Homo sapiens: one gene and its partners. The protein of the gene in region 1 interacts with the protein of each later gene in a biochemical or structural test. Each region holds a gene or a part of one and is shown in the gene's direction. Other genes may lie near its edges. The genes, in order: DCN, COL6A1, FAM20B and TGFB2.

Region 1 (7,027 bases):
CACCACCACGCCCAGCTAATTTTTGTATTTTTGATACAGACGGGATTTCGCCATGCTGGCCAGGCTTGTCTCGAACTCCTGGCCTCAAGTGATCCTCCCACCTCAGCCTCCCAAAGTGCTGGGATTACAGGCATGAGCCACCGCACCTGGCCTATACACTTCTTAAGTAAAGAAATAATACTTACTTAATTTTTTTCTGATTTCTTGCAATTTTTTAGATTTCTCTGCTATCCCTATGAATGGAATGAACAAACATGCCCTTGTTTTACATGTATGTGGAAGGTTTTGGATTTAAAGAGATGTTTTTCTTCACTATCTACAGGCATTGATTCTTGTCAACAATAAAATTAGCAAAGTTAGTCCTGGAGCATTTACACCTTTGGTGAAGTTGGAACGACTTTATCTGTCCAAGAATCAGCTGAAGGAATTGCCAGAAAAAATGCCCAAAACTCTTCAGGAGCTGCGTGCCCATGAGAATGAGATCACCAAAGTGCGAAAAGTTACTTTCAATGGACTGAACCAGATGATTGTCATAGGTACAGACATTTTTATAACTTTAAGACCAAAACTCAAGTTTTTATCTTAAGAGATTTCAACTGGGTTTTAAGTGCAGGAAGGTAAATTAGCTACAAGCTACATGCCTGGAGCCTATGTGATTTATAAGAACAGGGCCAAGAGAAATTGGGATTTTGAATCTGGACCTTACAGTGATGTTTTTATGTATGTCCTTGAGTATCTGAGAATATGGAGAAAACCCTAGGGCTGAAGTTACCCTACCACACACACAATATGCAAAGATGAGTTTAAATAGTGCTTAACTACAGATATTTTGAGATACCTTTCCGTTTTGGGGACCTGTTGTATTCTAAACACTCATAAATCATTTGCTTTAAAAATATGTTATGGCTGGGCGCGGTGGCTCATGCCTGTAATCCCAGCACTTTGGGAGGCCGAAGCAGGCGGATCACGAGGTCAGGAGATCGAGACCATCCTGGCTAACATGGTGAAACCCCATCTCTACTAAAAATACAAAAAATTAGCCGGGCGTGGTGGTGGGGGCCTGTAGTACCAGCTACTCGGGAGGCTGAGGCAGGAGAATGGCGTGAACCCGGGAGGCGGAGCTTGCAGTGAGCCGAGATGGCCCCACTGCACTCCAGCCTGGGTGACAGAGTGAGACTACGTCTCAAAAAAAAAAAAATTTCTCTAAACATATAGTAAAAATTGTAATTTTATTATTGGCTTATAAAATGCTAGATTGAAATTCTTTAACAAAATTTTAAAATACCTTAGGAAAATAATAAATAACGTAAGATGGGAATTGTAAACTTGCTTTAGTTGATTTCTGGGCAAACCTGTGTATGCATCTTAAATAATTTTATTGGTATTGCTTTCACTAATAGTCTTTTTCATAAGTCATTATTATTCATAAGTCATTGTCTGTTTGGCTTTTGTTTTAATAAGGGAAATTTTTATCCTATTTTGCTATTCTCCTGAGGAGCATGCTCTTTAACTTCACTTTTGTTTTTTAGTCAAGTTGATATTAATCCCTATTTCTTTATAGGTTGCTTGCTGAAACAGATACTACAGTGACTAGTAATATCCTAAAATTTCCTCTAAAAGCCTTGCACTTATTACATTTGTAGAACTGGGCACCAATCCGCTGAAGAGCTCAGGAATTGAAAATGGGGCTTTCCAGGGAATGAAGAAGCTCTCCTACATCCGCATTGCTGATACCAATATCACCAGCATTCCTCAAGGTGATAGAAGATTCTCCAAAACATTTTGAAAAATTTAAATTCAAAGGCTTTAATTAAAAAAAAAAAATCTTGTGGAAACTGGAATTGTCACCTAAGAGGCCAACCTTATTTCCAGCAAATTCTCTATTACTGCTAGTGTTTCATCCAGTGTTTATATTTCCAGCAAATTCTCTATTACTGCTAGTGTTATATCCAGTGATTCAGTCTGGATGACCACGGGGCCATCCAGGCTCACTGTAGAGATGGGTAGACTCCTGTTAATGTCTAGTTTAAGACACAACTTAATGCACAGTGATTTTATAATATTGTAAAATCACAAAGAAAAAGTACATTTATTTAAAAAATAGCATGCCTTGGTGTTTGTAAAAAAAAAAAAAAAGATATATGGGAGTACCTCTGAAATTGATCCAATTTTTATCTTGAGTCTGCAATAGCTTAGGGAATTTTTTTTTCCTTTTTAAGACACTCCAGTTATTAATATCTGAATGATAGTGGTAGTTGTGTGTTGTGAAGAGTGTAGATTTTGGAGTCAGTTTGCTTGAGCCCAAATTACCATAAAGTGGTTCAAAGACTTTGAAAAAGTTATTCATTTGTCCTCTATCTCTTTATCTGTCAAGTGGAAATAATACTGCTATCCACTTCATTGAGTTGTTTTAAAGTTAAATAAATAATTAGAGAAATATTTAGCATATAGATAAGTAGGGAATTAATATAACTCTCTATTATGCATTAAAAATGTTCTGAACAATCAGTATGTGTAGGCGATGTACCAAACACTTAAGACAGGGCAGGGAACAGGATATGCTACATGCCTTTAGGAGCTTACTCTCTAAAACCAAGCCAGACAAATACACAGCAATGACCACATAGCCACAAGGGTAAGTTCATTGTTCCAAGGGATTCCCAGGAGAGGCACAAAAGCCAGTCTTTGTGAATTACAAAAGGCATCAAACCACCAATAATAAATTCCTCTAACTTGCACATCGTCCCTACTCTGGGTTTTTCAGTCTCACAGAAGCCCTCTATATTATCTAGTTTTCCCCTCAGTCTGTCCCTTTCTCAACTTAGATGCCTTGTTCTTGAGTGCGTACAAAATGTAGACATTTGGCCACAGAAAACACCAGTTGTCCTTTATTGTTCTTTTACAGAAATTTCAACTCCTGAGAGTACATATTCCATAGGATGCTTTCTTACCACCCCTTGCCCTCCTCCTAGTCTTTTGAATACAGAGCATGCTTTTGACTTCCTTAGTAGCAACTACTGGCATAGATAGATACATAGATGATAAAGACTGATTTATAATTCATAAAGCACTTTCATGTTGAGTCTCCAATTTTTTGCATGTAACAAGTAATCTTTTGCTATCCCCAGTGCAGGAATGAAATATTTATATCTCAGATAGATATAAATTGGGGATTGATATAGATAGATAGATAGATAGATAGATAGATAGATAGATCTTATTAAAATTCTTGCTGAAATTTATTTCATGCAGCCAGATGACTTACATTTAGCACAATCTCAGACTTTGCTGTCCCTCTTAATGCATGCTCCAAAATATCCTTCACTGATACCTTTTATCATTTCATGATCTCTTTTCCTTTACTTTGCTATGTCTTCTATCTATCCCAGGTATTCTTTCCTCATCATTTATAGCTTGCTTTTATTTACTACCGCTTAATAGAAAAGTTAAGTAACTACAATTTATTAAGCATGTATTTAGTTCCGGGTATCATGCCAAATGCTTGTCATGGAGTCTTCTATATGATTCTTACAACGTCCCTATATAGTAGGGTTATAATTCCTGTTTCATAAAAGTGGAAAATGAGGCTTAAACAGGTAAAGAAAATTGTAATTAAGTTCTTAGAGCTAGGAAGCGGCAGAGATGGAATTGTGTGGTGCTGATGTCAGAACTCGTGTGTTTAACTATTTCACTCTGTTGGCATATTAAGTCCTCCTTTCTATTCATCGTTATGCTTATCTAATACATGATTCCACCTTGCTTAGGCTGGGATACCTATGCCTGAATATCAGCAACCTCCTGGTGATATTTTCTCCCATCACTCATGGAAATGGAAAGGCAGTAGAAAGTAGTGTAGAGACTATAAAAATCATACACTTAGATCAACCTGGGTGAGAGACCTAACTCAGTCATTTAGTTGTACTGTGACTTTAGGATAATTATTCTGCATTTCTATAACCTCAGGTTTGTTAGATGTTACATGGAGCTATTAATAACCCTGTCTACTAGGATTATTGTGAGGATTACTCTATAGAAGTAAGGCTTGTATTGTACACGCAAGTACTTGGCCCAATGTAAACCTCAATATATTTTATCTTAAAAAAGGAAAAGAAAAAAGAAAATTTAAAATAAATGAACAAACAAATAAATAAAATAACTGGAGTATGGGTTCTTTAACTCAATGCCACAGTTGCAGAAGCTAATGATGCACTTTACAAATTTGTCTATCTCAAACCTATTGCAAGGTTTTCTCCCATAGTCAAACTTCTTCTTAGCTATAACTTTACATTTGGGAAACTGACATCCCAAAAAGGGAGACACTTTGAAACTAAGTAAGGCCGATGGTTGTGATAGCAATTGGTGTACTGGAGGCACTGCATTAAAAAATATACATTTTGCATTACTTTGTAATTACTTTGTAACTTTGAGTCTTATTTATTTAACTGTGAAAAGGGATTAGTGACCAATAATTTATGTTTTGAGAGGCTTAAAGGATTTGAAGTAGGAAAAGTGCCAAGGTCAATGTTCGGTGCGTAACAGACATACAATAAATAGATGTTCCTTTTCCTAGCAGCTCTAACACAAAATATGCTACCATAGGAAACTAAGAATCATTTTCAAGTCAAATATGGACTAAACTATTTTATTAAATGGACAATATTGACAGAATTCAGTGTGATGTGATAAAAATTTTAGACAAAATGAAACCTGTGGTTTTTCAATTCTGTGTCTTTATAGACAAATAGCCAAGACTTTCTGCCAATCAGATGTTCTTTCTACACTTAACCAATTTGCTATTTTCTCTGTATCTATTGCTATTAAGTGGAACAATATGTTATTTTAAAAGCTGTATAAAATATAATACAGCCTCAGATGCTAGGAGGAAATGAAAATAAAATATTTAAACTTTTATATTTATAATACTCGATCTTTGGAAATCACAGCCATGCAAGTACTATCTAGAGGTTTAGTGGGTACTTTGGATGTAAAATTATTACCCCAGGTGCTCCACATATGGCAGATCACTTGATTATAGACCTCTCCACTCCTTCTGCATAAACATTCTGGATTTAATAGGCATAAGTAAATGTTAGCTGTTTCTACACAGACATTTTGCAGAGGTATTTGATGCTTTTATGGAAAAGTCAATTAAGGCTAAGACCAGCACAGTATATCAGTGTTAATTTTTAATGATGCTCATTAATGAAATAGACAATTAAGTTTGTACATGGGTTTAATTTATACGTAATCTCTTCATTATGGTTCGAATAGTGACTTTCCCACTTTATAATTACTATCTTTTATCAACGTCAGTTTTAGCCCATTAACAAAGGTGGAAGAGAATAATGAGACTCAGCGTTGACTTCAGTTCTTCTATTCCAAGAACAAAAATTGACTACATGATAGAAATCATCCAGGTTTTTGTTAAAGTCAACCTAAGAGAAAAATAGCAAGGGCTTCCACTACTTCCAAAAGCACACATTATTATAAAAGGGATGAAAAAAAAAGATAAAAGTAAAGCTGATTCTTTGAAACTGTGTGTCTTTTAGAAAATTGATGGCATATGTCTTCTTTAAGTTTGTCCACATTCTGTACTTATAATGTTTATCTGCTAATTTAACATCTTTAATTCCACATTCCAGGTCTTCCTCCTTCCCTTACGGAATTACATCTTGATGGCAACAAAATCAGCAGAGTTGATGCAGCTAGCCTGAAAGGACTGAATAATTTGGCTAAGTAATAATATTCTTTCATGACATTCTATCAGAACAATGGCTAGGTATATTAGTGCTTATATGATAAGAATTATAAACATGATGATTGATTTTTGAGTGTACTACATTTCACTGCTGTTGTTGTTTCTATAATCTCAAACTTCAGCATATCCAATTATTTCTTGAGAAGAAGCCAATGAAATAGTGCCCTTACTAAAACCACCAAGATCAGCTTCATATTTTATTAATACTATACTGTTTATAGATTAGTTATATTTTATACACAAAGTGTGTGATTAAATCAATATGTGCATTTAATATGTTCTAACTTATTTGCATCAAACAGAAAGTTAAGTAAATTATAACACAGTTGCTAGAATTTGAAAATCCATTAAAATGAAATCTACCAAGACAGAGAAATATTGAGCATCACACAAATTACTATTTTAATAATTATGAGATTCTCTAACCCCCTCTTCTCTGAAAAGTTTAAAATAAAATATCTCTGGGCATTTAATGTAGATCAACAAAAGAAAAGCTTTTGTTGTTGTTGTTTTTGCTGGCCCTTCTTAATGATTTTTTTTAAAATAAGTGATACTAGTACTTGTCCTGGTTTCAAACATAACTTCAATCTGGCAAACGTTTTCACTTGTCTTCAAGGAACACTATGTTCTTTTTGATCTGTACATATTGCTGACTGTCCCTACAGAGAAGCACACTATCATGCCAGATTTACTCATTCCTGTTGTTATATATAAATTTCATGGTGGATAAATAAATATAAAATATATCTTTGAATGTGTATATATATATATATGCATGTGTGTGTGTATAATCAACTCCTTTACTAGGTAAAATATTCTTTGATGGGAAAAGTGGTTTTTGATCCATGAGACCTCTGTCCCTCACAATGCCTAGCATAATATCATGCACATAAGTTTTCAAGAATATTTGTTTATTAAATATACAAATAAATGTTTGAATAAGTGAACAGTTTTTAAAAATAAACTATTAGGAATATTATGTTCCAATATTATGGTTGACCATAATTTGATGTTGGAACTTAGGATATTATAAGGAATAGGAGACTATGTCCAATCACGTTCTGTCAGATGAATCTCAAAGACAGTAACTTTGAGCCGAGACCTTAACAATAAATGGACTTTGTCCAGGCTCAGAGAGGTTGGAGAAAGCACTCCAAGAACTGGGAAGAGTAAGTGCAAAAACAAAAAATGTCCTTTCCTATAGACTTGATTAACTACACAATGCTTGTAAGAAAGGCATCCATGTGTGGTGTTTGCTTTCATTTCTGC
Region 2 (7,027 bases), on another chromosome or scaffold:
AGACAGAGACAAACAGAGACAGAGACAGAGACACAGAGAGAGACACAGAGAGACAGAGACGGGAACAGAGACAGGCAGACAGAGACAGAGAGAGACAGAGACAGAAACAGAGACAGAGGGACAGAGACAGGCAGAGAGAGACAGAGAGACAGAGACAGAGACAGACAAACAGAGACAGAGAGACAGAAACAGGGACAGAGACAGAAAGAGAGAGAGACAGAGGGAAACAGAGAGAGACAGAGACAGATAGAAAAAGACAGAGGCAGAGAGAAGCAGAGACAGAGAAACAAAGACAGTCAGAGACAGACAGAGACAGAGACAGAAACAGAGACAGAGAGACAGAGACAGAGGGGCAGAGACAGGCAGACAGAGAGACAGAGACAGAGACAGCGAAACAGAGACAGAAACATACAGAGACAGAGAGACAGAGAGAAGCAGAGACAGACAGAGGCAGAGAGACAGAGAGAAGCAGAGACAGGGACAGAGACAGAGACAGAAATAGAGAGATAGAGACAGAGGGACAGAGACAGAGAGATAGAGACAGAGAGGGAGACAGAGAGATAGAAGCAGAGAGAGAGAGACAAAGACAGAGGCAGAGAGACAGAGAGAGAAGCACAGACAGAGACAGACAGAGAGACAGGGACAGACAGAGACAGAGAGACCGGAAACAGAGGCAGAGAGACTGAGAGACTGAGAGAGACGGGGTGGTTTTCCCCACAGCATCAACACCAAGCAGGGCTAGGATCACTGAAACAGACTCATCAGACCCGAAGCATGCGCTTTCTCGGGGTTTTTCTGGACTGAGGGGTTTCCTCTCATCCCAGTGTCCAGCTGTGGGGACGCAGGGGCCGCAAGCCCCGGAGTGTCCAGAGGGGAACGTGGCCTCCCCACACCCAGCCCTTCACGAGGCCTCAGGATCCCAGTGGGGGTACCCGAGGCTGCCCTGTCCAGCCAGGCGGTGCGGGGGGTTTGGGGAGAGCCTCTCCCCGAGGTCGGTCTCAGAGGGCCACATGGCCGGTGTGGGCCGGACATTCCCTTTCCAATGGTTGTGCCCACTTCCCTCCAGAGTTGGTGCCAAGCTGGGACCTGGGGGACTTGGAGTCTCAGGAAGTCGTCCGCTGTCTGCAGGGGGTGCATGGGGGATGTGGCCACACACGTCAGAGTGCGGCCCCCTGTGGAAGCCACAGACAGACACGACTCCCCTAAATGAGCTCGCCCTTCTGGCCGAGATGCTCAGCGTCCCCAGCAGGCTGCCCGACTGCCCTGCGATACTGCCCTCCTTCCTGCTGCTCCCACTTTCCCTTTCGGGGGGTTGGATTTGGGGCATTCAGGGATCGCCCTGTTGTTTGCTCATCACACCCATTTCCTGCAAGAGCCACGGTGACCGAGCAGCCTTGAGTTGAGGCAGCTTGTGGGTAGACGCGGCGGGCATCTCGGAGGGGCACGCTCCCTGCCACCCTCAGCCTCCACTCACTGGTCAGGGGCTTTGCGCCCCAGGGCACCCCAGGAACCGAGCCTCCTTTGGGGTCATGGGTGCCTCTCCTGGGAGGGCGTGGATTTTCCAAAGCAGTTTAGAGAAATGAGACCCACAGGCGTTATTTCCCATGGTGAGGTTCTTTTCAGTAACCCCCACCGTATAGCCAGGATCAGCAAAGAGAGGCGGCTCCTCCCGGTGAGACAGGGACCAGCACCTCCCGGACAGGCTTGGGTCTCCCTCCAGTTCCCCCACCTAGTCTCGAGGTCTCACGCTGCCCTCTCCTGTCCAGGGGCTCCCACCTGAAGGAGAATAAGTACCTGATTGTGGTGACCGACGGGCACCCCCTGGAGGGCTACAAGGAACCCTGTGGGGGGCTGGAGGATGCTGTGAACGAGGCCAAGCACCTGGGCGTCAAAGTCTTCTCGGTGGCCATCACACCCGACCACCTGGTAGGCACCGGCCCCCCCCGGCAGATGCCCCCAACCACAGGGAGTGGCGGCTGCAAGGCCCCCGGCAGCTGGGACCGTCTTTTGGTCCTCGGGAGGGTGTGGGTTCTCCAGCCGGCCACCCTTGCCCCTGAGAGGCCAGCCCCTCCTGCTGAGGAGCCTGGAGCGCCCCAGCCCAGCCTCCCCTCTGGCCCTGTGGGAAGCGGCCCCGGCCGTCAGGGGTCCCAGCCCTGCTCAGCCCACCCTGAACACTGCCCCCAGGAGCCGCGTCTGAGCATCATCGCCACGGACCACACGTACCGGCGCAACTTCACGGCGGCTGACTGGGGCCAGAGCCGCGACGCAGAGGAGGCCATCAGCCAGACCATCGACACCATCGTGGACATGATCGTGAGGCCCCTGCCCAGGAGACGGGGAGGCCCGCGGCGGCCGCAGGTGGAAAGTAATTCTGCGTTTCCATTTCTCTTTCCAGAAAAATAACGTGGAGCAAGTGGTAAGAGCCCTCCCCACCACCCCCAGCCGTGAGTCTGCACACGTCCACCCACACGTCCACCTGTGTGTTCAGGACGCATGTCCCTATGCATATCCGCCCATGTGCCCGGGACACATGTCCCCTGCGTGTCTGCCCGTGTGCCCGGGATGTGTGTCCCCCTGCGTGTCCACCTGTGTGTCTGCCCATGTGCCTGGGACATGTGTCCGCCTGTGCGTCCATCCGTGTGTCCGTCTGCCCATGTGCCTGGGTCGCATGTCACCCTGTGTCCCAGCCGTATGTCCGTGGCTTTCCCACTGACTCGTCTCCATGCTTTCCCCCCACAGTGCTGCTCCTTCGAATGCCAGGTGAGTGTGCCCCCCGACCCCTGACCCCGCGCCCTGCACCCTGGGAACCTGAGTCTGGGGTCCTGGCTGACCGTCCCCTCTGCCTTGCAGCCTGCAAGAGGACCTCCGGGGCTCCGGGGCGACCCCGGCTTTGAGGTGAGTGGTGACTCCTGCTCCTCCCATGTGTTGTGGGGCCTGGGAGTGGGGGTGGCAGGACCAAAGCCTCCTGGGCACCCAAGTCCACCATGAGGATCCAGAGGGGACGGCGGGGGTCCAGATGGAGGGGACGGCGGGGGTCCAGATGGAGGGGACGGCGGGAGTCCAGATGGAGGGGATGGCGGGGTCCAGATGGAGGGGACGGCGGGGTCCAGATGGAGGGGACGGCGGGGTCCAGATGGAGGGGATGGCGGGGTCCAGATGGAGGGGACGGCGGGGTCCAGATGGAGGGGACGGCGGGGTCCAGATGGAGGGGACGTCGGGGCTCCAGATGGAGGGGACGGCGGGAGTCCAGATGGAGGGGACGGCGGGGTCCAGATGGAGGGGACGGCGGGGTCCAGATGGAGGGGACGGCGGGGTCCAGATGGAGGGGACGTCGGGGCTCCAGATGGAGGGGACGGCGGGAGTCCAGATGGAGGGGACGGCGTGGTCCAGATGGAGGGGACGGCGGGGTCCAGATGGAGGGGACGTCGGGGCTCCAGATGGAGGGGACGGCGGGGGTCCAGATGGAGGGGACGGCGGGGTCCAGATGGAGGGGACGGCGGGGTCCAGATGGAGGGGACGGCGGGGTCCAGATGGAGGGGACGGCGGGGTCCAGATGGAGGGGACGGCGGGGTCCAGATGGAGGGGACGGCGGGAGTCCAGATGGAGGGGACGGCGTGGTCCAGATGGAGGGGACGGCGGGGTCCAGATGGAGGGGACGTCGGGGCTCCAGATGGAGGGGACGGCGGGGTCCAGATGGAGGGGATGTCGGGGTCCAGATGGAAGGGACGGCGGGGTCCAGCAGGCAGGCTCCGGCCGTGCAGGGTGTGGACTGTCCCGGGGGCGCTGGGGGCTTCTGAGGGTGTCTCTGTCCGCCCTGCCCTCAGCCGCACTCTGTTCAGAAGGACCTTTCTGGAGGTAGGAGGGTGAGAATGTGGGTCCCCTGCTTCTGTGTGGCTCACATAGGATGACCTTAAACGTTAGAATTAGCTGCTGATAATTAAAACTTGCCATGAGGCTGCTCATGGACCTCAGATTTCTGGCTTCTCCTAAAAACCATCAAACCCAGCAGCTGTGGGCCCGAGTCCCATGGCCATTTCCTGGGGGTCGAGCTGTGACCCTGGGGGGCTTCTGTGCTGCACGTCCCTCCCACCTGTGCCTGGGGGTCAGCAAAGCCGAGCAGACAGGAACGAAGGCAGGGAGTGGGGGGAGCTGGCGTGCGGGTTGGAGCTCCCAGACCCAGGCTGACCAGATGTGATGGGGAAGGTGCTTTAAAGCCCTTGATCCCTGAAGGCTGGATGAAGCGTCTTTTTAAAAACCTGTTTCGTGAGCCAGCTTTTTAGAAAGAAACGGGGCTGCCCCAACCTTGACCTGTTTTGTGTTCCAGGGAGAACGAGGCAAGCCGGGGCTCCCAGGAGAGAAGGGAGAAGCCGGAGATCCTGTGAGTGCCTGACTGTGGGGTGGGGGCCCTAAGAAGCTGGAGGCGGGGAACGACTAGGCCTCGGAAACTTCCGGAAGAGTGGCTGGGTTCTGAGTGCCAAAGTCACACTGCCTGTTCCTTGTGGGTGGGAGCAGACCTGGAGGGGCCACAGCCCAGCCATCCTTCCACACAGCCCCCCAGGCAGCCCGTAAGCCCCCCTGCCAGGGAGGGGCTGGGTGGGGAGGTGGCCCAGGGTGCTCAGGCCGGCACCGTCCGGGGCCCCTGCCGTGGCTCCTTGGCCCAAATCCTATCCATAGACTTCCCTCCCCCAGCTCCACCTTGGAGGGCCTCGGCACCATGGGCCCCGTGCAGCAGGGCCCCTCTCTCGGCCTGACCAGGCCTGGGCTGGAGGGAGGGGTGTGGGGCTGGGTGGGACTGGCCCCTGCCCCTGCTCCTCCGGGGGTGTCTCACCATCTCCTCCTGTGTTCCAGGGAAGACCCGGGGACCTCGGACCTGTTGGGTACCAGGGAATGAAGGTACGTGCCCCCCCTTTCCTGGCCCGAGCCCGGTGGTGCCCTCAGCCTTGCACAGCACTAACAAGCCTTCCTCTTCCTCTTCTTCCGCTGGGTGTGTAGGGAGAAAAAGGGAGCCGTGGGGAGAAGGTGAGTGAGGCTCGACCTCGGAGCTGGTCTCTCCAGGCGCAGATGTGCCATCCTGGACGAGGGTGTCCCCGGGGATGAGGACAGTGTCCCTGACAGGAGACCACGTGTCCTGCAGACCCGCTCCACCGCCCCTCGCCGTCCCCTCCATCTGGAAGGACAAGGACAGCCACCCAGGCACCCAGCAAAGGCGCCTGTGTCACTTTCACCCCACCCCAGAGCAGGGGTCCCCCGGGCGGTTACCCTCTGCGGAGCCGGGGGTCCCCCGGGCGGTTACCCTCTGCGGAGCCGGGGGTCCCCCGGGCGGTTACCCTCTGCAGAGCGGCCCCTCCCCATCACTGTCAGTCCCCATGATTCTCAGCAGTGATGTTGTCCCCTCGGGTTGGGGGCACCCAAGCCCCTGCCTCGCGTGGGCCTAAGCCAGGCTTGCCCTGCCCTCCCCACCCCAAATACCCCCTCACACCCGCTTCCTGTCTCCGCAGGGCTCCAGGGGACCCAAGGGCTACAAGGTGAGCGTGGGCTGCTGGGAGGGGGGAGTTCTGCCCCCACGGCAGCATGTCTGACCTGCATCTGACTCCTGCCTTCGTTTTCCCGCCTCACAGGGAGAGAAGGGCAAGCGTGGCATCGACGGGGTGGACGGCGTGAAGGTGACTGGGGGGAGATAGGATGGACGGGGAGGGACGAGGAGGAATGGGGCGAGATGGGGAGGGACGGAGTGGACGGCGTGAAGGTGACCCGGGGAGGGATGGGGTGGACAGTGTGAAGGTGACCAGGGGAAGGACGGGGAGGGACGGGGAGGGATGGGGTGAGGTGATCCCGGCAGGAGGGACAGGGAGGAGTGGGGTGGACGGTGTGAAGGTGACCCCAGGGGGGTGTCTGCTAGGCAGGGCTTTCCAGGGAGGGTGTGGAGGGCATGGAGGGCACCAAGTCTGACAGTTGATTGGCCTCAGTTTACCCACTTGGCCGTCAGATTTTCTAGTTTTCTTCCTCTTTCCAGGGGGAGATGGGGTACCCAGGCCTGCCAGGCTGCAAGGGCTCGCCCGGGTTTGACGTAAGTCACTTCCTCTCACTGATACTTTAAAACTAGCGCTGTCAGCAGCACCTCGTGTGGACCGTTTTGACTTCTGTCTGGGCGGTCTGGGGCTGCTGCCAGAGGCCGCGGTGGCCTCTGCCGGTGGTGTCATGCTGCCCTCTTTTCTCCAGGGCATTCAAGGACCCCCTGGCCCCAAGGGAGACCCCGGTGCCTTTGGACTGAAAGGAGAAAAGGTGAGTGACTTGCGGCCCCTGGAGGACCAGGGCCTTCACGGTTGGCCAAGCGCTGAATTGGAAACCTCTCCTGGAAGCAAGTCCTGGTCCGAGCATGTCGGCCACCCGTGCGGCCTCAGAGGGGAGGAGCTGGTGGAGGCTGGAGGCAGGCAGAGGAGCAGCGGGGACAGTGCCCACCGTGGGGACAGTGGCCGTGGCGCTCCCGCCCAGAGCCTTCCCTGCAGCCCGAGGGCCTTCAGGCCTCCGCCATTCTGTCCCCCGCACCTGCCGCTCGCTCGGCACAGATGGGACCCCACCGCGTCACTCCTAGCCTGCGAGCCGCAGCCCAGAATGGCTCTCAGAACTGAGAATGGGCTGGGTGGCACTGAGGGTGGCGAGTGGGCGGGAGGGTGGTGAGCGGGGGCGGGAGGAGGGTGGTGAGCGGGTGGGAGGGCGAGTGGGCAGCGGGAGGGCGGGAGCACGAGGCGGGAGAAGGAGCTTTTTCGTCTGACAGCTGAGTCTGCCGTTGCTGGTGTTTTCTCTGGAGTTTCTTTGTTGAAGCTGAAGTGTTGGGGAAGACAAAGGCGAATGCTGACCCCACCCCAAACATTCCCAGACGAGCTCCTAGAACCCAGCAGACGGTTTCCAAATCTCATCTTCAAGTTCCCAGATTACCCTCCAGGCCCTAGATTTGAGTTTGCCAATTTGCCAGCCTGGCAAAGCTGTGCCTTCTCTAATGGGAACCAAATCCTGCCCCTTAGACAAG
Region 3 (7,027 bases), on another chromosome or scaffold:
ATTTCCTTAAGTGTATTTGGCTCCTTTCTGTCCTTTAGGAAACAATACTTGTTTTTATGGGAAGTGCTATTACTGCCGAGAAACAGAACCAGCTTGTGCTGATGGAGACATAATGGAGGGATCTGTCACACTTTGGCTTCCAGATGTGTGGCCTCTGCAGAAGCACCGTCACCCATGGGGCAGGACTTACCGAGAAGGCAAATTGGCCAGGTAAATGCTCCTATGAGCCATTACTTAATTCTCCCCTGTGCCTAGCCAGGTGCCAACTCTGTAAAGGAGCCAGCAGTTCTGTCCAAGAGTGAAAAGAACTGTGGAGTCAGGGGCAAACCGGTAGGTAGGAACTCTGTCTTCTCTTTGTGTGTAACAGTGCCAGGTACAGTGTTGTCACTCAGTGCTGTGATGCTGCTTGTCTCCAGGTGGGAGTATGATGAGAGCTACTGTGATGCTGTGAAGAAAACGTCCCCTTATGACTCTGGCCCGCGCCTCTTGGACATCATTGACACAGCTGTCTTTGATTACCTGATTGGCAATGCTGACCGCCATCACTATGAGAGCTTTCAAGATGATGAAGGCGCTAGTATGCTCATCCTTCTTGATAATGCCAAAAGGTGAGACCAGCAGGACTGTCCTTGTCAGGGAGGGGTTTCTGTATATGAAAGAAGGGCATTTTCCAGAGCATCCTGGAGAATATCCAGAATGCAATTGATAGGCAACATCCTTCTTTTTTCCACTTGGAGTCTTTGCTATTGGTACCTGTCCTTCTCTCCACTCTCAGGGATCTCAGTACTTCAAAAAATGGAAAAGTGGTTCTTCCAAGGAGTCTAAGACTCTATGAGCCTCTTCTCAGACAACTGGAAAACCAGGGTTATTCATTTGTTACTACCTACATCGTTCTTTCTTGGCTATGATATTTGGTGTTTAGAAGCTTGAGAAATACAGATGTAATAGAGTGTGGAATTTGTCGTTAAATTTATTCTATCCAAAGGTTCCTGCAATTAAAAAATTAATTTATTTGGTAGGATGTTTTGCTATTTTTGTGTTTGTCTAGGTCCATACTTTTGCTGTCATGGGAAGAAGAGCTGTTGCCTAGTGTGGATTTTATATATAACAACAAGTTACTTTTATCTTGAATAAAAAATGTTTATTCATTTTGAATAAATAGAATGTCCTTATTTTTTTAGGCCTGAGCTATTTGGAGAGCACATTGTATTTCCATTTCATATTCTGCATTCTCTGTGGTGGCCGGTTTAGTGCCACACTTTTTTTTTTTAAGTTTTTTTGAGACGGAGTTTTGCTCTGTTGCCCAGGCTGGAGTGCAGTGGCACAATCTCAGCTCACTGCAACTTCTGTCTCCTGGGTTCAAGCGATTCTCCACCCTCAGCCTCCTGAGTAGCTGGGACTACAGGCACTCGCTAATTTTGTATTTTTAGTAGAGACAGGGTTTCGCCATTTTGGCCAGGCTGGTCTTGAACTCCTGACCTCAAGTGCTCTGCTTGCCTCGACCTCTCAAAGTGCTGGGATTACAGGTGTAGTGCCACACTTTTAGTTGCATTTAATAAATATTTACTAAATAGAACGCTTCCTTGGAGTACAGAATTTTCCAGGCCCTAGGTCACTACTGTTAACATTGGTTGTTGGAAATAAGCTAAGACATGGCTCCTCAGCAAAGAGTGCTTGGGCAGCATTTGCTAATGATGCCACCATCTTATACTGAACACCAGGCGCCTCATGCTTTGTGAAAGATGGTGATGGCCACAGAAAATGAAAAACCAGCAAACACTGCCTCTCCCTCTACCCCATTACAGCAAAGCACATAGCACTCATCCTGTGATACACATGATACTTGATATTTGGTGTATATCAAAATAGTTGCTTTGTCCACTCGGGCCGCTATAACAAAATCCCTTAGACTGGGTAATTCATAAGCATCAGAAATGTATTGCTTACAGTTTTGGAGGCTGGGAACTCTAAGATGAAGGTGCCAGCAGATTCAGTGTCTGGTGAGGGCCTGTTTCTCAGATGGTGCCTTCTATGTGTCCTCATATGGCAGAAGAGGTAAACACGCTCCCTCTGGCCTCATTTATAAGGGCACTAATCCCGTTCATGTGGGCTCTTCCCTCGTAACTTAATCATCTCCCAAAGGCCCTACTTCTTAATACTGTTGGACTGTTGTACCAGGGATTACGAATTTGAGGGGGACACAAACATTCAGACCATAGCAGTTGCCTTTGCCTTGAATTACTGGAGGACCTACACTGTACTAAGGGCTACCAGACTCTAGCTATTAAGGTGAGCCTCTGGAAAGATTGAAAGGTTGACAGTTTTCCAGAATCAGTTCTCCTTTTCTAACTCTGAATTGCTGCTAAGGTAATTTTTGCATCTGCTGTGAATCAGTTTCCTCAGCCTGTGTGAACAGTTTTTCCAATTTGAATCTGTACTTATACTTACTTGTAGGGAATAGGATATTGCTAATTTGGGAGTAGAATAAGTGTGACTTCTTTTTACAAGTAATGGTCATCTGCTTGTTTGTGGGAATCTAATATAAATGGCTTTTATTTCTCTCTGGTCCTTAAAACCTTTGCAGGCTTAGGGGTCTTCAAGTTCTCCCTTTGGTCTGTGAACTCCGCACTGTGTTTACCATAGTTATGCTCCAGCACCTTGTGATATCTTGGCAGGAAAATGTCCCTTGTAAATGAGTATATTTGTTGTCAGATATTTTAGTACAGGCTGTTAGGGATCCTGTGTCTAATTGGTCATGCCCCGCTTGTTTTCAATTTAAGTGATTTGAGCTGCTGGAGCGTGAAATTATCTAGGATCACATTTGAGTTTCATATAGAATTTGCTATTGCTTTGATGCTAAGAAGAGAACAGTACTTCCACCTAATTCACTAAGTTTTAATTTAATTTTCAGCTTTGGGAACCCCTCGCTGGATGAAAGAAGCATTCTTGCCCCTCTCTATCAGTGTTGCATGTAAGTTATGCACAGCAAATACATGTGCCTGCATTGCCTTCTTTTCCAGGCTCAGGTAACAGTACATCCATTTTCTTGGCCCTCAAACTTTCTGATACCTGAGCAGTGCTTTTCATACTTTTCCAACCTAGAACCTCTGGACATCCTGAAATGGGATATCAGGGAAAGGTGAAGGCAGATAACCCAAAGCTCAGAATTCATCTCAAATTTTGTATGAATAGAAGATTGTATGTATACAGTAATACATGTTTGGTTTAATAGCAGAATATAATCACCCACACTCCCCACCCCACTGCCAAAAAAAAAAAAAGGAGTAAAATCTGTATGCCTGGTTACTACACCTGGTTACCTTGTGGTTTTAACTCCTCTCACTCACCCATCACATACCACCTGGGGTTTACATATTTCAGTTTGAAATTGTCTAAACCAAAAGTAACTTTTTCCATAAATAATAATTTATTTTGGCCAGGCACAGTGGCTCACTCCTGTAATCCCAGCAATTTGGGAGGCCAAGGTGGGTGGATCACCTGAGGTCAGGAGTTCGAGACCAGCCTGGCCAACATGGCGAAACCCCGTCTCTATTAATAATACAAAAATGAGCCGGGCATGGTGGCAGGCACCAGTATTCCAGCTACTTAGGAGGTTGAGACAGGAGAATTGCTTGAACCTGGAAGGCAGAGGTTGCAGTGAGCCGAGATTGTGCCATTGCACTCCATTCTGGGTGACAGAGTGAGACTCTGTCTCAAAAAAAATAAATAATAAATAATAATTGGTTTTTTTAAAAAAACTCTGTATTAGAGAACAGAGAAATTGAAAAATGAGTCAAGAAAATGAGATAAAGTCTAAGCTCTAAGAAGCTTCTTTTCATCATTCCTGAAATAATTTTATTTTACTATTTTATTTTTTATTTTATTATTTTTTTGAGACAGGGTCTGCATCTGTCACCCAGGTAGGAGTGTGGTGGTGCGATCTCAGCTCACCGAAATCTCTGCCTTTCGGGTTTAAGCAATTCTTGTGCCTCAGCCTCCCGAGTAGCTGGGACTACAGGCACCTGCCACCAAACCCAGCTAATTTTTGTATTTGCAGTAGAGACGGGTTTCACTATGTTGGCCAGGCTGGTGTCAAACTATTGACTTCAAGTGATCCGCCTGCCTCAGCCTCCCAAAGTGCTAGGATTACAGGCGTGAGCCACCGCGCCCGACCATCCTGGTGTAATTTTAGAGCACGCACATCAAGAATTAGCTGGGATCCACCTTGCTTGGCTACACAGAAAAACAAGTTCAAGAGCACCATTTAATACTGGTCAGCTCCCAGCAACATCATATCACATAAGACTGCCATAGCAACTGGTCTCTTAATCTTCTTTCTTTTTTTAAATGACAACAAAATTCTGTAGAAAGTAACAGTTTACCCAGGCTGTCCTTCATTGTCTTTATTAATGATAGGAAGCAGTGATATATACAATCAAGAATTGTGTGTTTGTCTTTGAAGATGTTTTTGTGGTAGTAGTTTTATCAGTCTGGTTCAATCAGGAGATAGCAAAGACATAGTGTGATAAACAGAGGTGTTTAATATAAAGAATTTTTTTTTTTTGGAGATGGAGTCTTGCTCTGTCACCCAGGCTAGAGTACAGTGGCGCGATCTCGGCTCACTGCAGCCTCCACCTCCCATGTTCAAGTGATTCTCCTGCGTCAGCCTCCCAAGTAGTTGGGATTACAGGCGCCCCTCACTGCATCTGGTTAATTTTTGTATTTTTAGTAGAGACGGGGTTTCACCATATTGGCCAGGCTGGTCTAGAACTCCTGACCTTGTGATCTGCCTGCCTCGGCCTCCCAAACTACTGGCATTACAGGCGTGAGCCACTGCGCCCGACCCAATATAAAGAATTATTAAATTCCAATAACAGGAGTGACTATAAAAGGGCTGAGGGAGAGTACCCAAGGAAGGACAAACTTGGAAGGGGATCCCCTCCCAATGACTGGAGTTTGGACTTCAGTGGAGAAGGTTTAGCTCAGCCCACCAGATAGCAGAGAAGTTTGCTAGTTTGCAGGTGCTGAGCAAGCCAGAAGCAACTCTCCAGAGTGCAGGTGGGGTGTACATTCAAGCCACAGCTGGTGTCATGACATGCAGAAGGAGAGAGAGAATCCAGTAGAAACCTTCTGTGCTGCAAGTGAGGCACACACGTGGGCCTTCAGAGGGAATTGGGGCCAGGGTGAGCAGATGGCCTTCAAAGCTCTGGTTTCCATGTTGAGAGGGCCTCGGGAGAGTTATCCCCAGGCCAGGCTAAGGCTTCAGGTCACCAAGGACCCACACCTTCTGGGAGTGTGGCTAGACAGGTCTTCAGTGGATGACCTCTCTGCCTCCCCAACACCACCATTGACCCACAGAAGCATTTGGAGAGCCCCTTCACCCTGCAGTGTCCCCTTTGCGCCCTCTAGTGAGAATGCTTTAGGGGAAAGATGCTTAAAGGAATCCCATCCGTCGTAGCAGAGCACATTTTGTTTTTGTTTTTGTTTTGTTTTGTTTTTTGAGATGGAGTCTCGCTCTGTCGCCCAGGCTGGAGTGTAGTGGCACGATCTCGGCTCACTGCAACCGCTGTCTCCCGGGTTCAGGCGATTCTCCTGCCTCAGCCTTCTGAGTAGCTGGGATTACAGGCACCTGCCACCACGCCCAGCTAATTTTTTGTATTTTTAGTAGAGATAGGGTTTCAACATGTTGGTGGGGCTGGTCTCGAACTCCTGACCTCAGGTGATCCGTCCGCCTTGGCCTCCCAAAGTGCTGGGATTACAGGCATGAGCCACCGTGCCTGGCCAGCAGAGCATATTTTGAAGAGTGAATTTGGAGCTGAGAGGAAGTAACATAATAACTTAGTCTCACAGAGGAAGCTCTGATGCTCTGGGCATTTGTAATATATTTAAGAATAAAAATAACTGTACTCCGTCTGTGCCTGTTTGTCCCTTCCATGCATGCTTTATGCAGCAGTCTTTCTTACCTTTTAAATTGCTGCACAACAGGCTGCCTTTTACAGAATCAGACATTTCTGCATACCCAGTAATTCCTCCTTTACCCACAGAGAGCTAAGAACTTTTCTTCTCAGATTTTAAATAAAAGATATGCTATAGTTGGTGTCTTAGTTCGTTTTGTGCTGCTGTAACAGGATACCACAGACTGGGTAATTTATTTTATTTTATTTTATCTTATTTTGAGATGGAGTCTCGCTCTGTTGCCCAGGCTGGAGTGCAGTGGCGCGATCTTGGCTCACTGCAACCTCCGCCTCCCAGGTTCAAGTGATTCTCATGTCTCAGCCTCCCAAGTAGCTGGGATTACAGGCATGTACCACCATGCCCGGGTAATTTTTGTATTTTTAGGAGAGATGGGGTTTCACCATGTTGCCTAGGCTGGTCTCGAACTCCTGACCTCAAGTGATCTGACCCCTTGGGCCTCCCAGAGTGCTGGGATTACAGGCATGAGCCACCATACCTGGCCAGACTGTGTAATTTATAATGAACAGAAATTTATTGGTTCACAGTTCTGGAGGCTAGAACGTTAAATATCAAGGTGCCAGCATCTGACAAGGGACTTATTGCTGTGTCATCATGTCACATGGCAGAAGGCAAAAGGGCAAAGAGAGAGGGCAACAAGGGGCTGAACTCGCCTTTTTTTTTTTTTTTTTTTTTTTTTTTGAGATGGAGTCTTGCTCTTTTGCCCAGGCTGGAGTGCAGTGGCACAATCTTGGCTCACTGCAACCTCCACCTCCCGGGTTCAAGTGATTCTTGTGCCTCAGCCTCCCAAGTAGCTGGGATTACAGGCACCTGCCACCACGCCCAGCTAATTTTTGTATTTTTAGTAGAGACGGGGTTTTACCATGTTGGCCAGCCTGGTCTTGAACTCCCAACCTGAGGGCCCACCTCGGCCTCCCAAAGTGTTGGGATTACAGATGTGAGCCACCGCTCCTGGCCTTGAACTTGCCTTTTAATAACAGCATTAGTTCCACCCATGAGGGCAGAGCACTCATGGCCTAACGACCTCTTAAAAGACTCTACCTTGATACTGTTA
Region 4 (7,027 bases), on another chromosome or scaffold:
CATCTTGGTAATTTTCTCTTAAAGGTTCTAGTTGCAGGGTGGTGCTTTTCTTTTTTAATATTTATTTTTAGTTTGACAAGTCCTAGCTATGTGACCTGCCATGTCTTGTACTTGATGGTCTCAGAAGTCAGCCCATGTATCTAACCCCAGTCTTCCTAGTGACCCTTATTTTGCTGCAGTTTCTCCTGTTCTTGTTCAATAGCAGAACAGATGCAGAGAATTCTGGCAAGCAGGATGATTTTATTATTGTAATTATGGCACTATCCGCAACAGCGGTGATAAATACACTCCACCCCTGGTTATCCCCTTTGGGAAGTAAAGCTTTCTATCTGGGGTGGAGCCAAGGAGATATTAGGAAAGAAAGTTCATTGTAATTAGTCCAAAACCATTGAGACAAACAAGGAGTTCAGTCAGTTTGCTTTCTCTAGCATGTGCATCGGTTCTACCGGTATTTGGGCAGAGCGGAAAGTATGTTATGTAGAACCTGAATAACTCATCTTTCAATGTTTATATGCAAAAGGTCTAATAAACTGCCAGCACTTCTATAACACAGAAAGGAGCTCTGATCCCATTTACTGAATAGGTGTGGAGAGAGCAAGTAACCCAAGAGGGCATTAGTTCTTTGTTCTCTGAAGCACACTTCAGTCTGAAGAGCTGAGATGATCCAACCCAGGGTCATGGTCATCAACAAACTGGAAAAATTCCTAGATTATTAGGAGGATTTCAGAGTATGGCATTTAACATCAATGTGTGGATTCTCCTTTCCATTTCACCCCAGCCACCAAATAAATGAAAACCTCCGATACGTCCAAGATAAATAAAATATACTGCCAGTTTTCATACAAAGAATACAGGCTTTAAAAAGTCTGTATTCTGTATGGAAGTTTAGGAGCAGAAAGCCATATTAATAGCAGGTTCGATACTACTGTGCAAGGACTGGATAATTTTATAGAAAATAGGTTAACTGATTTTCCAGCACTTTTTAGTTATACTGGAATATAGCAAACCCTTCCAAAAAAAAGGAAAAAAAGAAAAAAACCATATTTTTAAAAAGCAAATTGAAAGTACAGCATTGGCTTATATACCAGCTTTCCCTCTTTAGGACTTTTCTGCCTAACTTTTAACTCAGCTGTCACTGAAGTGGCTGTGGGGAGGGAGTGTGCCTGTCATTCCTTGCAGTGAATCTGGCGAGGGTCATAAGCCCCAGAGATGAAGCCATGGGAAAGATCACTGGTTCATTTTTTACCATCAACTTATTAGCGTTCAGGGAGTGACTTCAGCTCAAGTATTACAAATATGCTCTAATTATACTCAATGAGCTATATATCATTACAGATTGCTGATAGCCCTTTGTGGGACATTTTATAAAGTTCAGACTACATATTTTTAGCAATGTGGAGATTTAAAAGTAAAAATATAAGAGATATTGTATATGCCCTGAGGCATATTTTGTCTTAAATATTATCCTTGGCCAAGTATACTATATAAATACAGTAAATATGAATAGAACTGGCCAGGTGCCAATCTCCTAGGATGAATTTTAGTCAAGAATGTATTTATGGGATATAAATAATACTGTGTCAACATTTAAAGAAGGGGTCTGATTAGTTTTGAATTTATTCATATTGATCTTTTCACGTGCTGTTAGTTTAAGACTCGAAGTGGAGTTATGCTAAGGTTTACCGATAGTTTGCCCACTGGGAATTAGTGGACCTCTAGTAGTTTAACAATCCATTTGAAGTTCGAGGCACATCTATTCGAAAGATGCTGCACAAGGTTTTAGAAACTTAGAAAGGGTGATTCAGTTATACACAGGAAGAATTCAAATAATTGACATGTAAGAATCTGTAGAGAGTCCGACAATCAAAAAGAGGAAGAGACACAACGTTTCATTTTCTTTCTTTTCTCTCCCTTTTTCATTGTAACCAATCAGCACATGTTGTGGTTCTAACCCTGGTGATTTTGTACTCCCCCCAACACCCGCACCCCTACTCCCACTGGAACGTTTGGCAATGTCCAGAGACACTTTGGGTTGTCATGACTGGAGGTGGAGGGGTGCTACCGGTATTTAGTGGGTCAGCCAGGGATGTTTCTAACCATCCTATAATGCATAGGGCAACCCCCCATTCCCAACATCAAAGAATTATCCTGACCACAATGTCAGTAATGCCTCTGTTGAGGAGCCCTGGTATTTGTTGGGGGTTACTGAATTCTGTTAACAGTACCATTTAGAAAATAATAACAAAAATAAAATATCTTTATGATCAAAGCATATTCAAATGAGAATACTGAATAGGAGGATAGTCAGACAGTTATCTTAATTAAATGGAGTGTGGATTAGACCATTGTATACAGTATGTACTTTATTTTTTGTGGTCTTAAAGCCCCTAAATTAGAGACATCAAAACTTCCCATTTATTTAGCTTAAGTGATGGTGTTGACCTATCCATTACTAGCTTCAGTCAGCAGCAGTGTGATGTTAGAACAGAGAAAAAAGAAGTGAGGAATTATCATGGATTCCCCTTGCAAGGGAAATAAGCAGTTTGTGTTAACAAAGAGTGGAATCTCCAAGCTAGGCAATGGAAGAAAGTAAATAATCATCTTGATTTATTCTACCATTTTGAAGTAGATACACTAAAAATATACAGCCTGAAAAATCACAATGAGATTCCCTTTGTAGTTGTTTCACATGAGTGTTAAACATTTAACATGAAGCAATCTCCTTTTCTATTTCCTCTGTAATTTTCCAAGTTAAATTGTGGAATGTAGAATGAATACCAATGACACTATGGTTTTGGGGAATGTGACTTAGCATTCAATTCATGAATATGTCTTTCTATATACAAGTTGCTGGTCTGTTGGCCACTTGCCCAATGAAGGAAAATGTTAGCGATTGCTGGAACGTAGTGGTATTTTTGCTTTATGTAGTAAGCATTTTTACTATTTTATTTTTTAGGATTCTCTATGTGTGTGTTTGCATGTGGGTGTATGAGATAGAAACAGAAAGAAAAAGAGAGCGTATCAAAGACAGACTTGAACTTCTTGACTTCCAGAATGATTGAGTTATTAATATACAACAGACCAAACTTTAATTCTCCCTTTTTTATTGCATCGTTGCTTGTACTAACTCTAGTGTCTAATTGTGGTTACATTTAAGTTAGGTCACATGCTCCTCCTTCAGGATTTCCTCTTTTTTTTACTTTTCAAAGACTAGAAAAACCTCTCAAAGAAGTATACTATTTATAACGAAAGCAGTTGGGTCGTCTTTGTTGCCAAGTGAGGCCAGCCAGCTTTATGCCTCTCCTGAGGAGACCCCACCCGATGAAAGAGGGGCTTTGCAGAGGTTGAGGGGCAGGTGGGGACCTCTCCACCTCACAGAAGGAAGGGGTTGGGGGAGCCCACTGCGTCTCCACAGCAACCCCTGTGGTCTACTCGAGGAGTTGCACTTTTTGAATGATTTCTCCCTGGTGAAAAGATGGTGATGTAACCTAGTCGCAGCATCTTTCATATAAAGATATGAAAGAATGACAGATCGTTTTTCCTAGAGGAAACTGAGATGTGAAAAAAGGGCTAATGACTCACTGTTGAACCCACATCAAATCTGGGTTAGAACCAAGGAGTTCACTGACTTGTAGGCCTTCGCCCAGAGATTACAACACACTTTAGGCTGCATATTTAGAAGGTTCGAGAAATTAGAGTGGAGGCTCCTGGCCCTGGGAGAGGTGTGCAGGGTCACCACTGGAGTGGGACTCTGGCCCACTGCCACTCCAGCCCGCCTCCCCCTGCCCCTTGCCCACAGCACCCCCACCCCACCCCGCCCCATTATAGGTTCAGGAGTAAGGTGAGCAGCCGAGCAAGAGACTGCATGGAAGAGCTCTGGAAATAGCCCCTTCCGCTATCTTGATGTAGCATTTCCGGTACTGATGGGCTCCCGGAGAGAGGATTTGGATTTGCCAGATGTGCTTGCTCTATTTAGGCAGCGCTTCTGCTCAAGGGTGGATTCCATTTTGCAGATTCTGCACAGCTTGATGAAATGTGGCTCTGCCCGAGATAAACAAATGCCCATTGTCATTTTGAAGGCATATGTGTGCTTTCATTTTAAAAAATATCCTTTAAACAATGATAGTTTTTAACCTGGGAATTCAACGTTCTCCAGGTATTTTATTTTAGATTTAATAATATGTTAGGGGATTCTTTGATGGGTTTGTTTAGACTGAAAAGTTTGCTTCTGTCATTTGTTTGGAATAAATTTGCATCATGCTACAACCACAAGCTGCTTTTGATGGTTGGCTGTTTTGTTTCTTTTCTAAGCGCTGATATCCAGAAGTGGGTGTTTAAGTGCCCCACACTCTCACCACTACCTTACTTCCTGAATTGGCTTGGTGGTCTTGACTCTGAATGAAACTGCCCCTTGGCCTCTTCCCTACCATCTCTAAATTGCCTTCTTTTCCTTCATTGTGATGGAATGTCTGCATGGATGGATGGTCGAGTGCTCACATATCATGTCCCATTTGATACTCTACTGAGTTTGTGGGAGACAGCACCCCCTTTACTTAACCAGGCCTCAGTTTCTTCCCTTGTAAAGATGAAGAAAGTAACACTGGCCTTCTAGGGTTGTAAGGATTGATGATGACATATGTGAAGAAGCACCTAGTGCAGCTGCTCTGGCATGGAGTAGGTCTTCTTTGCCTGGCAGCAATTCTCTGAGTCTCAAATGCCTTTGACTTCAGGGTATACCATTATTTTATGTGCCACTAAGAAAAAAATATCACTTCAGTGATCATGCCATTGATTTTAAGAGAGGGTCTGGATTTTAGGGAGATGAAAATGTGATTATGAGCGATACCCCAGGAACCACTTCCATTAACCTCGGATGTCTTGGAACCTCCAGCTCATTCTTTTCCTTTGCGATAGTTCCACTCAGTGGATCTCTTTCCTTTGCTCACTCAGTTTGTTCCTTAGGTGGCCTCTGACACTTCAGGGCAGGGATGGGATGGGGCTGGAAACAGAGAACATAGGGTTGGTAATTCACCATGTCTGGCACTATCCAGTTCTCCTATGAGAAGGCCTGAGAGTTTAGGCAATTAGATTCAGGCCTTTCAGGGTCTGGTCCCTCCTCCTTGCTCAGCCCCTCCTCTCACTAAATCCCTGCATGAAAACTATACTCCAGTCACATTGTCCTCTTTGCCTTTACCCAAATGGGCCATTTATTTTCATGCCTCTGGGGTCTTTGTTTATGCTGTTTCTTCTACATAGAGATCTATCTTTTCACACCTTTAAAAATCCTTCTGCCTGGTGTGGTGGCCCACGCCTATAATCTTAGCACTTTAGGAAGCTGAGGCGGGAGGATCACTTGAGGGCAGGAGTTGAAGACCAGCCTGGGCAACATAGCAAGATCTTGTCTCTACAGAGAATTTAGTTGGGCCTGGTGGTATGTGCCTGTAGTCCTAGCTACTTGGGCGGCTGAAGCAGGAGGATTGCTTGAGCCTAGGAGTTTGAGGCTGCAGTGAGCTATGACTGCCCCGCTGTCCTCCAGCCTGGGCAACAGAGCGTGACCCTGTCTCTAAACATAACAAAATAAAACAAAATATTTCTGGGCTTAGTCAGATGCCACCTCCTTAGAAAACCTTCCTTGATTGTCCTAGTCTTATTTAATTAGCTCTTCCTTTGCACTCTTACTATACTGATGGTTATCTCTATCTCTCCCTCTTTTCTTTTGATCTTAGTAAGATCTAACTCTGTTCTGGGCTGTCTTCTTCATTGGTTTGTAGACTGCCCCAGGAACAGAAATCAAGTCTAACTTATCTATATTCTTATAGAACTTAGCATATTGTGTTTGATCAAGGAATGTTTGACAAATGGATGAGCATTCCCTTTACAGAATGAGATTGAACTACAGGAAGAAGAAGAATCTGTGAGTTCAAAGAGGTGTCAGGGCCAGGAGATGCGGAGAGATGAAATGTTCTGACCTTCATTATCAGGGAAAATGTGTCTGATGGGTCATGTCACTATGCTAAAGAGCACAGGGATTCTCATAACCATAATATTTTCTGTTTCCAATTCTCAGATAATAATGAAGGTGGTGATAATGATGATTAAAGCTAACCTTTATTGAGGACTTTTTACAGGCCAAGCATAGCTAACCTTTATTGAAGACTTATAAACCAAGCATAGTTTTAAATATTTTACATATATGTACTCTTTAATACTCACAAGCAATCCTATGAGGTTAATACTCATACTGTCCCTTTGACAGCTGAGGAAATGGAAATAGCTATTTCTATTAGTGATGTGTTATGGAAATTAGACTTTCAGCCACCACAGGTAATAGGAGCCCTAATACAGAGCCCAGGAAATAGAGAGCATGACCTTTCTTGCCTTCTTGATAAATGATGTAATACATCCATGGAAGAATGGTGGCTCTCCTCTGTTAACAAGAATTACATTCACAAGCACTGAGAAAATATACCTCTGAAGCACACAACCTGGGTTTTTTTTTCTTGCCTCTTAACACATTCAACTTTTATTTCTGCACTTAATTGATACAAAAAGTGTGATTTATTAAGACTTTGGTTGTTTCTGTTTGTTTGTTTGTGAGACAGAGCCTTGCTCTGTTGTCCAGGCTGGAGTGCAGTGGCACCATCTCAGCTTACTGCAACCTCTGGCTCCCGGGTCCAAGCAATTCTCCTGCCTCAGCCTCCCAACTAGCTGGGATTACAAGCATGTGCCACCACGCCCAGCTAATTTTTGTGTTTTTAGTCAAGATGGGGTTTCACCATGTTGGTCAGGCTGGTCTCGAACTGATCTCAAGTGATCCATCCGCCTCGGTCTCCCAAAGTGCTGGGATTATAGGCCCGAGCCACCGTGCCCAGCCTTGGTTTTGTTTTTGAACTGCAATCATTTTCCTCACAAAAATTTTGATAAATTTTATTGATAGGGCATTCCTATTTCAGAGAATTAATTTATTTGGGAAGGCAAGATGATATACAATGAGCATGATGACTTTGGAGCTGGACAGACCCATTAA

The links.
Region 2: the proteins of DCN (region 1) and COL6A1 form a complex in vitro, tested with the Homo sapiens proteins (one study listed by BioGRID).
Region 3: of the proteins of DCN (region 1) and FAM20B, one has a biochemical effect on the other in vitro, tested with the Homo sapiens proteins (one study listed by IntAct).
Region 4: the proteins of DCN (region 1) and TGFB2 form a complex in vitro, tested with the Homo sapiens proteins (one study listed by BioGRID).

What each region holds. Positions count from the first base shown.
Region 1 is NC_000012.12:91,151,805-91,158,831, reverse strand, and holds part of DCN (decorin isoform a preproprotein), read left to right. Parts: intron 1-322; coding exon 323-536; intron 537-1,643; coding exon 1,644-1,757; intron 1,758-5,642; coding exon 5,643-5,736; intron 5,737-7,027. UniProt on the Homo sapiens protein: May affect the rate of fibrils formation.
Region 2 is NC_000021.9:45,984,760-45,991,786, forward strand, and holds part of COL6A1 (collagen alpha-1(VI) chain precursor), read left to right. Parts: intron 1-1,766; coding exon 1,767-1,926; intron 1,927-2,184; coding exon 2,185-2,313; intron 2,314-2,395; coding exon 2,396-2,416; intron 2,417-2,739; coding exon 2,740-2,760; intron 2,761-2,850; coding exon 2,851-2,895; intron 2,896-4,324; coding exon 4,325-4,378; intron 4,379-4,848; coding exon 4,849-4,893; intron 4,894-4,992; coding exon 4,993-5,019; intron 5,020-5,498; coding exon 5,499-5,525; intron 5,526-5,618; coding exon 5,619-5,663; intron 5,664-6,013; coding exon 6,014-6,067; intron 6,068-6,219; coding exon 6,220-6,282; intron 6,283-7,027. UniProt on the Homo sapiens protein: Collagen VI acts as a cell-binding protein.
Region 3 is NC_000001.11:179,063,889-179,070,915, forward strand, and holds part of FAM20B (glycosaminoglycan xylosylkinase), read left to right. Parts: intron 1-38; coding exon 39-210; intron 211-416; coding exon 417-608; intron 609-2,911; coding exon 2,912-2,971; intron 2,972-7,027. UniProt on the Homo sapiens protein: Responsible for the 2-O-phosphorylation of xylose in the glycosaminoglycan-protein linkage region of proteoglycans thereby regulating the amount of mature GAG chains.
Region 4 is NC_000001.11:218,348,326-218,355,352, forward strand, and holds part of TGFB2 (transforming growth factor beta-2 proprotein isoform 2 preproprotein), read left to right. Parts: intron 1-7,027.